Linked DNA regions of Homo sapiens. The protein of the gene in region 2 purifies or fractionates together with the protein of the main gene of each other region. This does not show direct contact. Each region holds a gene or a part of one and is shown on either strand. Other genes may lie near its edges. The genes, in order: ARHGAP17 and WDR49.

Evidence for each region.
Region 1: the proteins of WDR49 (region 2) and ARHGAP17 purify together in Homo sapiens (affinity purification with mass spectrometry, with the first as the bait; 2 studies listed by BioGRID). This does not show direct contact.

Annotation. Positions count from the first base shown.
Region 1 is NC_000016.10:25,013,314-25,017,229, forward strand, and holds the start of ARHGAP17 (rho GTPase-activating protein 17), read right to left. Parts: upstream 2,057-3,916; 5' UTR 1,949-2,056; coding exon 1,896-1,948; intron 1,566-1,895; exon of another isoform or gene 1,363-1,565; intron 1,316-1,362; exon of another isoform or gene 600-1,315; coding exon of another isoform or gene 550-599; intron 1-549. UniProt on the Homo sapiens protein: Rho GTPase-activating protein involved in the maintenance of tight junction by regulating the activity of CDC42, thereby playing a central role in apical polarity of epithelial cells.
Region 2 is NC_000003.12:167,647,145-167,651,060, reverse strand, and holds part of WDR49 (cilia- and flagella-associated protein 337), read left to right. Parts: intron 1-3,916.

The DNA.
Region 1 (3,916 bases), on a different chromosome or scaffold from region 2:
CATGGCCGGAATTTTAAAATGTGAAGGTGCCAGGCAAGGTGGCTCACGCTTGTAGTCCCAGAACTTTGGGAGGCCAAGGCAGGCAGATCAGTTGAGGCCAGGAGTTCGAGACCACCCTAGGCAACATGGCAAATCCCCACTCTACAAAAAATACAAAAATTAGCGGATGTGGTGGTGCCCACCTGTAGTTCCAACCACATAGGTGGCTGAGGCGAGAGGGTCGCTTGAGCCCAGGGAAGTCAAGGCTGCAATGAGACAAGATCGCACCACTGCACCCCAGCTTGGGTGACAAAGGGAGACCCTGTCTCAAAAAAAAAAAAAAGTGTGAAGGGAGAAGCCTCTAAGATGACCCAGGAGTCAAAGAGACCCTAAATAGCTTGGTAGATTTAAGTCTCAGAACTTTGTATAAAAAGAGTGAAAGTCCCTTACCTGTCACGAACAATGTAAAAACAAGCCAAACGACTATTTGACAAATGTATCTTGGCACTTACTAAATACTAGTTCCACAATGCACGTTGCTCAGAACACTAACAAGGGTACGAAACTCACAAGAAATTATCATGTGCTTGTAAACTGTTCCTTGAAACATCAGCCGCCATTACCACACGTCTACCTTCCTCTCAGCATTATTTCTTTAATTTTCCTGCAAATAACAGAAAAGTAGGTTTGTCTGGGCTTTAGGGGCAGCGATTAACCCTGAAAATAAGAGTTAATTCTCACCACAATAATACGGTAGGGAATCGAAAAAATTAAACAAGGAAACTAAGCAAAAAGATGGAGGAAATGAAACAGTAAAAAGCAAATTTAGAAAACTCGAGAGGAAGTAAAAGTATTTTCATACACTCAAAAAAAAGAAGTGTCCCACGTGCTTCAGCCAAACCAAACTCCCCTTAACTGTTAAAAACAGAAAATCAAAAGAAGAGCTGTGAGAAATTCATACTTTCGTATCTCTTTGCTGAATAAACACTAAATCGGTACAGTACAGCCAGCTGCCCTGAAAGACCTTGAAATATTAGCCCCAGATAATACAGCACATGACAGTCACCTCCAGAAACTCTCAAAAACCACAAATCATTTCTTGTTCTGACAACCTGATCTACCAACTCTGGTCTAGCCTGCCATTTAATAATCAATAACGTTTCTTGTTAAGCACTTCAACCGTAGCAAAGGAAGATAAAGAAGCATTTGTTTCCAAACCTAAGGTGAGACTTTTTAAATTGGCGCAAGGCGTCTCCATAATCCTTTTCCGCCAATTCCTAATTTCTAAATGTCAAGAACTGGCAGCAGCAGTCCAGTTCCTAGGAGCCCTGGTTTTGAGACAGCACCACCTCCGAATTCCCTCAAAGGGCGTTCTGAACTCACTGAGCAAATCCGGCTGGCTTTCATGTCCCTCTAGCCATTTCTTGCCGCCATGCACTTACAGGAGAAGGACTCGCAAACAGCGGGAGCACCGGGAAAGCCTGGGACTGCCGCCCCCCACAGCACAGCGCTCGGCACAGCGTTAGGGACAGAAGTCACCGTTGTTGAGCCCAGGGCAGCGATCCCAGCTGGCTCGGCCCCCGGGAAGGGAGGAGAAGGACCGGGTCTACTCCCCGAGGGCGATGCTCCCGGGGCAGGGACAATGGGCAGGGGACCCCGCGGTGTGGCGGAGGAGGCGGCGGCCCTCCCCTGCAGGTCTCGGGAGCCCGGCGGCGCTGAGAGACAGGCGGGCCGCCTGGAGCGCGGCGCTCGGGCCTCAGCGCGGCGCAGCCCCCGGGCCCGTGCCCCGCTGGTCTCGGGCAGGGGCTGCGGCCCAGCTCAGAGCCGCCGGACCGCGGAGGAGCCGTCCCGCCCCCGCGCCCTCCGCCCTCCGCCCCCAGCCCCGGTGCGACCCCCGTGCTGCCCGGCGCACTCGCCTGCCCACGGTCTGGTTAGCCAGCTGCTTCATGCGGTTGAACTGCTTCTTCATGGCGGCGGTGGCGGCGGCGGCCCGCGGGGCTCGGGCCGGGCAGGGCGGGGGACAGCCTGGCAGCTACTACATCGCTTCCCGGCCCAAACGGCGGCGCGGCGGTGGCTCCCCGGGCCGGCGGCCCCGCCCTCGCCTCGTCACTTCCAGTGGCACCGCCCGCCCGCCCTCTAGGTCTGGCCGAGCCGAGCTGAGCCCGAGTAGAGCCGAGTCGAACCGAGCCGAGGCTAACAGTGCCTTACCTGACACGGGCGAAGAGCTAGAAGGCCCCGGGCGAGAAGACCACTAGGCCTCCTCCGCCTGGCCTCCCCGACCCCAACGCTGCCCGGTCACCCTCTCGTTTATTTCAACGTATGAAAAGCTGTTTCTAGCAGGGCGCAGTGGTTCAACGTTGTAATCTCAGCACTTTGGGAGGCCGAGGGGGCAGATCACTTGAGCTCGGGAGTTCGAGAGCAGCCTGGCCAACACGGTGAAATCCTGTCTCTACTAACAATACAAATTTAGCTGGGCGTGGTGGTGGACGCCTGTAATCCCAGCTACTCAGGAGGCTGAAGCAGGAGAACGGCTTTTACCCGAAAGGCAGAGGTTGCAGTGAGCCGAGATGGCGCCACTGCACTCCAGCCTGGGCAACAGAGTGAGAGACCCTGTCTCGAAAAAAAAAAAAAAAAAAAAAATTAAAGTCAATGTGTGTTTTCCTTAACACACGTGCTCACACACTCATGTCTTCCTGGTTTGGTGGCCTTGGCTCCAGGTAAGCCCCTTCTTTGCATTGGATGGGCAGCAATGTGGCTTCTTTCATCAGCCACATCTCAAATGTGCTCCTAAATGTCATAGAAAAAGGAAAGAGCTCCCTAACTATGGGATAAAGGAGACTGATGCCAGTTTGGAATTCTTAATATCAAAGAATGAGGGACTTCAAGATCTTTTTAGTGACCTAGGAGAGACCTAGGAAGCATCAGAGCTTCAGATAGGGCAGCAAACTAAAAGTTATCGACATCAATTACAACAGAAAGAGGTAGAAATGAGCCTTCCTAAAACAAGAAAGCAAGCACTACAGGATCGGTTGCAGGACCGGCAGCCAGCCCTGGAGTCAGCACATTCAGGGAAGGCCGGAGGTTCCCATCCACACTGCATCCCCTCCATTCCATGTGGTACCCATCATGCTTCAGTGTTCCACGACGCTTACATGGGTTTTTATGACATAATTTCATCATAACAAGAAATAAACAGATAGTCCAATGAAGTTCTAAAACTTGAGTCTCCAGTTGGCCATTGGAAATGTATTGCTCAGACTTATAAAATAGGAGGAACAACTAGTTTTGATGAAAATGAAATCTACAAACTACAAACACCAAATATTAATATCATCAAGGAGCTCAAACAAAAAAGAAGTCAGGATACTGATGACCATCAGCTTGAATTATCAGTATTACAGAATGTTCATCAACAGAAATTGAGGGAAATAAGTTGTAAGCATCAAGAAAATCTAAGCAATTAGGAAGAAAAGATTGAAGAACTGGAAAATTTGTTACAGCAAGGTGGCTCAGGAATTACAGTACATGATCTCTCTAAACTTCAAGAGAAGGAAAACACTATTCATGCAAGCTCTACAAATTGAAAAAGTAGAGTCTACCAAAAAATTGAAGAATTTGAACATAGAGTAAAAGACAAATAAAAAATTATCTTCTGGGGCCAGGTGCAGTGGCTCACACCTGTAATCCTAGCACTTTGGGAGGTCAAGATGGGAAGATCACTTGAGCTCAGGAGTATGAGACTAGCCTGGACAACATACTAAAACCTCATCTCTATGAAAAATTTAAAAAAAAAAAAAAGGCCAGAAGCAGTGGCATGCACCTGTACTCCCAACTAGTTGAAAGGCTGAGGCAACAGGATCATTTGAGCCCAGGAATTTGAGGCTGCAGTGAGCTATTATCACACCATTGCACTCTTGTCTGGGTGACAGAGTGAGAC
Region 2 (3,916 bases):
TAACATTTAGGAATAAAGCAATTAGTGCTTATGTTCATTGTGCAGTTGTATAAATGGATCAGAATCATGCAGTGTTTCAGATCTAGGAGTCAGATTTCCTGAGCTTAAATCCCGGCTTTGCTACTTACAATGTGACTCTGTGCAAATACTTAATCTCTCTGGGCCTCAGTTTCCTTTATTTCTAACATGAGGATAACAGAGCTTTCATGAAGATTAGAGGAGGTACTATCTGGAAAGCACTTTAAAAAGTGCATGCCACAGAGAGTAAGTGCTCAATTAACATTAGATAATTGAGCTAATTATCTCATTTAGTAAGTAGAAGTTAAACCATGTGACCTCTGACAGTGCCTTGATTCTAATTCATACTTTTCTTAAAGGAAATTAAACTTCAAGTGACACTTGCTGCTATGCGTCTTCATTCCTATTAGTTGTGGAAGGAAGTGGTTAGAGCTGCAAAGACATAAATTCACATAGAAGAGTCAAAAGCATAATTGTTCTATCTCTCATTTCATATTTTCTTAGCAGGCAAAAATTCTAATTGACGTCTTGATTCTTTTCTTTGGAACAAATAAGTTACCTGGGTAGAAGCACAGAAAAGTAACTTGTGGATTTCATTTTCCTTTAAGTGATGGTGTCAAAAGAGCCATATATCAGCCTGAAGGGAGAGAAACTTGCATTATTCATAGAATCGTAAAATGGTTGTTACTCAAACTTCCCTGTAGCACTTACAATACTTAGAGAAATGACATGGTCTCTGGATGCTCATATTATTTTGATGTCAACCATATTTTACATTTTCTTTGAAACTCCAAAAGCCAACTATTGTTTGAGGAAGAGTAGCTGTGGTTTGCTGATTTTATAGGAGTGGTGAGAAGTAAAAATTTTGGTCTAAGGAAAATGGAACTTTGGGAAAGCCATGGAGCTTGATATTTATTGAGCTTCTCCTGAGAGTCTGGCTATGTAGGTTCTGAGTGTTTCTTTTTTTACATTCTCCATTGTTGATCTCTGTATGTCAATGATGGTTTAACATTGGACCTTGATCCTAGATTAATTGCTGCCCGTTTGGTCTGAGACCATAGTTTGCCCTGTGCTCCTGGGCTCTCCAGGTTAGGTCCTGAACTGCCTTTATCAGCAACTGTGTCTATATCTTCTCCTGGCACACCTGTTCTGGCCTGACTGTAAGCTGAGAGCTGGAGGCTGGCTTTACCCTGTCAGCTCCATGCTATCATTTGCCCAAGCCCTACTAAATCTTTAGCTTTAACTATACCTAGAAGCCACATGTAAAATGTGAGGTATTTATCCTTAAAGTAGGAAGGGCCAAATAGTTTTAGTGTAAGAAAGGCACAGTAAAAATCCTAGCAAGACTGCCCCAGAGACTGTGTGGTGAGAATTCTTAAAACAAATCTGTCTTGGAGGTGAATGAGATCTAAACACAATGCACTTATTCAAACTGAATCTCAAAAGACTGGAGAAGTTCAGTAGTCAATTCTGCAAGTTCTAGAATTGTGCTTAACGGGTAATACAATTACATTTAAAGAATTTTGATATTCTCATCCTTGATTATCTTTATAAAATTCCCAAAACACCTCAACAGTATCTTGGGGATTTTAGAAAGCATTCTACAGCAGGGTCTATGAACTGTGCTTGTTTGCTTCAAGACAAAGCTGAGGATGTTGATGTCCTGCCAGGCAAGCTAGGCTCTACAGGAATATAGAAAGTCAGATTGGGCCTTTTCTTACCTTTTTTTTAACTTGTCCTTCTTTCTAAACTGTCAAGCTTCCTCCAAATTTATGGAGGACCCATCCTTCTCTAGGCCTTCTCATTGCCCATTGTACCTTCACTACTAAGGTACCCAAATGAACAGGTCTTCCTAGACGTGTCTCATACTCCAAAACTATTCTTATATCTTCCTTCTTGCCTTTCTACCCAGGCACCACCATCCCAAACACATAAATAAAATTACTCATTTTTGTTTCACTCCCTTTCCCCAGAACCTTTAGATGTTCTTATCTCTGATAAAATGAGATGGTCCATAAAGTTCATTTAAAATTTTTTCTTAGATAAAACTGTTAAGGTATAAAGTTGGATATTATGCTATCCAACAATGCTGAGAATTAGAAAATATTTTTTATAGTGTATGCAAACTGTGTAAAATATATAATATCTGCAACATGACAGAGGTATTATTTCCTGTTCACATAAAGTAAAAAGCAGGTATTTCTAATGGGTAAGCAGTTGCAAGCAAGGATTCAGGTCTCAGGCTGTCCCCACCTTCCGCCTTCTACACAAGCCATACATCAGCTGGTAGCAGTGGAGAGCACTAGGGAATGTTTTCTGTGGTCCAGCTCACATCCCATTGGCCAGCACTCAGTCATATGGCTACAGGTAACTTCAAGTTACTTCAAGTCGTATGGCAAGTAGGGACAGCTGTGTGCCCAGATAATGATCTCACCCATGGTCCTCTTAGAATTTTGTGGGAGGAAAATTTCCTTCTCTCCTAATGAACCAGCATGCTTCAGTTTGTAAATTATGGAGACCTTTGTGTCTAATTGTATTTTGTGTTCTGTCTTAGCTGCCAGGAAGTTCAAAGCTAAATTTAGTGTTCAACTCTTACAACTATGCTTAACTTAGGTTTTCTGGGACAATAATCTGCTATTTTATTATATAATTCTTGTTCTTTTATCTTTGTTTTAATAGTCGGTCCTATTGCCTATGTATCTTCTGTTGTAACTGAACTAAAATTCTTTCTGGAAATCAGTGTAGGTAAAAATGATGAATAAAAATTGAATACCTTTCAAGTATAGTAAGATTTTATAAAGCACTTATGTTGGCATCATGTTATTTGATCCTTTACCAGCCTGAAACATAGGCACGGCATAAATTTTTACTTCCCATTTACAAATAAGGAGATGAAGGACTAAAAATATTCAATTGAATTCTCCCATGGGCAGAGCCAGAACTCAGAGGCAGATTGTCAACTTTGGAGTCCATATATGGCATGATTTCCACTGGCCACAAGATAACCTTCCTTTGGCATGTTGCTCTAAGGAACATGAATCCAACAGGATAAAGATTTCCTAAACAAAATGCATGTTAAGTTAATAGTGCACAGGCCCTGTGCTCTGCTAACTTGGAACTAACGCATAATCAGCAAATAATCAACAACTGCTACAATGAAATCAAGGTAGAGAAAGGGTGGAAGAATGAAAAGAAGATAATAACCAATTGCTTTTTTGAAAAATATTTTTTTCTTTCTAAAGGCATCTCAGTGGAGACTTGTGAGAAGGTAAACAGGTGAAGCTTAGTCTCACCTGTATATAGTAAAAAGTGCATTCTGCAGCCTCAGTCAATTCATCATCTGCTGAACAAAGACAGCAGGTCATACCATTTCTCACGCATTGCTCTTAGTGCAATCAAAATACCTATTTTTAATGGCAGCAGAAAACATTAAGGTGATAGCATGAAGACAAATCCAATACTACTGCAGTTGGCACAATTAGAAATGGCAGAGGAATTCTGTGGTGGTTTTATCTGATTTGTTAAAATTCATGAATAATGCTAGCAAATGGCGTCATCACCAAAACTCAAGGAAGTGAAGTTGTATCTCACTACAAATGAAAAATTTGCCTTCCAAATCCTGCTGCCTTTGTGCTGATTTTTGTGACAAGTTCTAACAGCTTCCTGCCTTTTCAAACTCTCTGTGTACTTTTACAACAGGCACTTACAAAAATTAATCTGGATCAGTGTGTGATGAAGAGTGCCTTTAGTAAACAAGTGGTTTAACCTTGAGTGTTGGCCAAAACTGGAGAAGTGAAGACAACCAAGAAAAGCTTGTTACAGAGGAGGGAGGGAGAAAGAAAGCAAAGATGTCTACTGCTGTTCATGTGTAGTGCATCAGCTTAGCCAGACTTGTGAA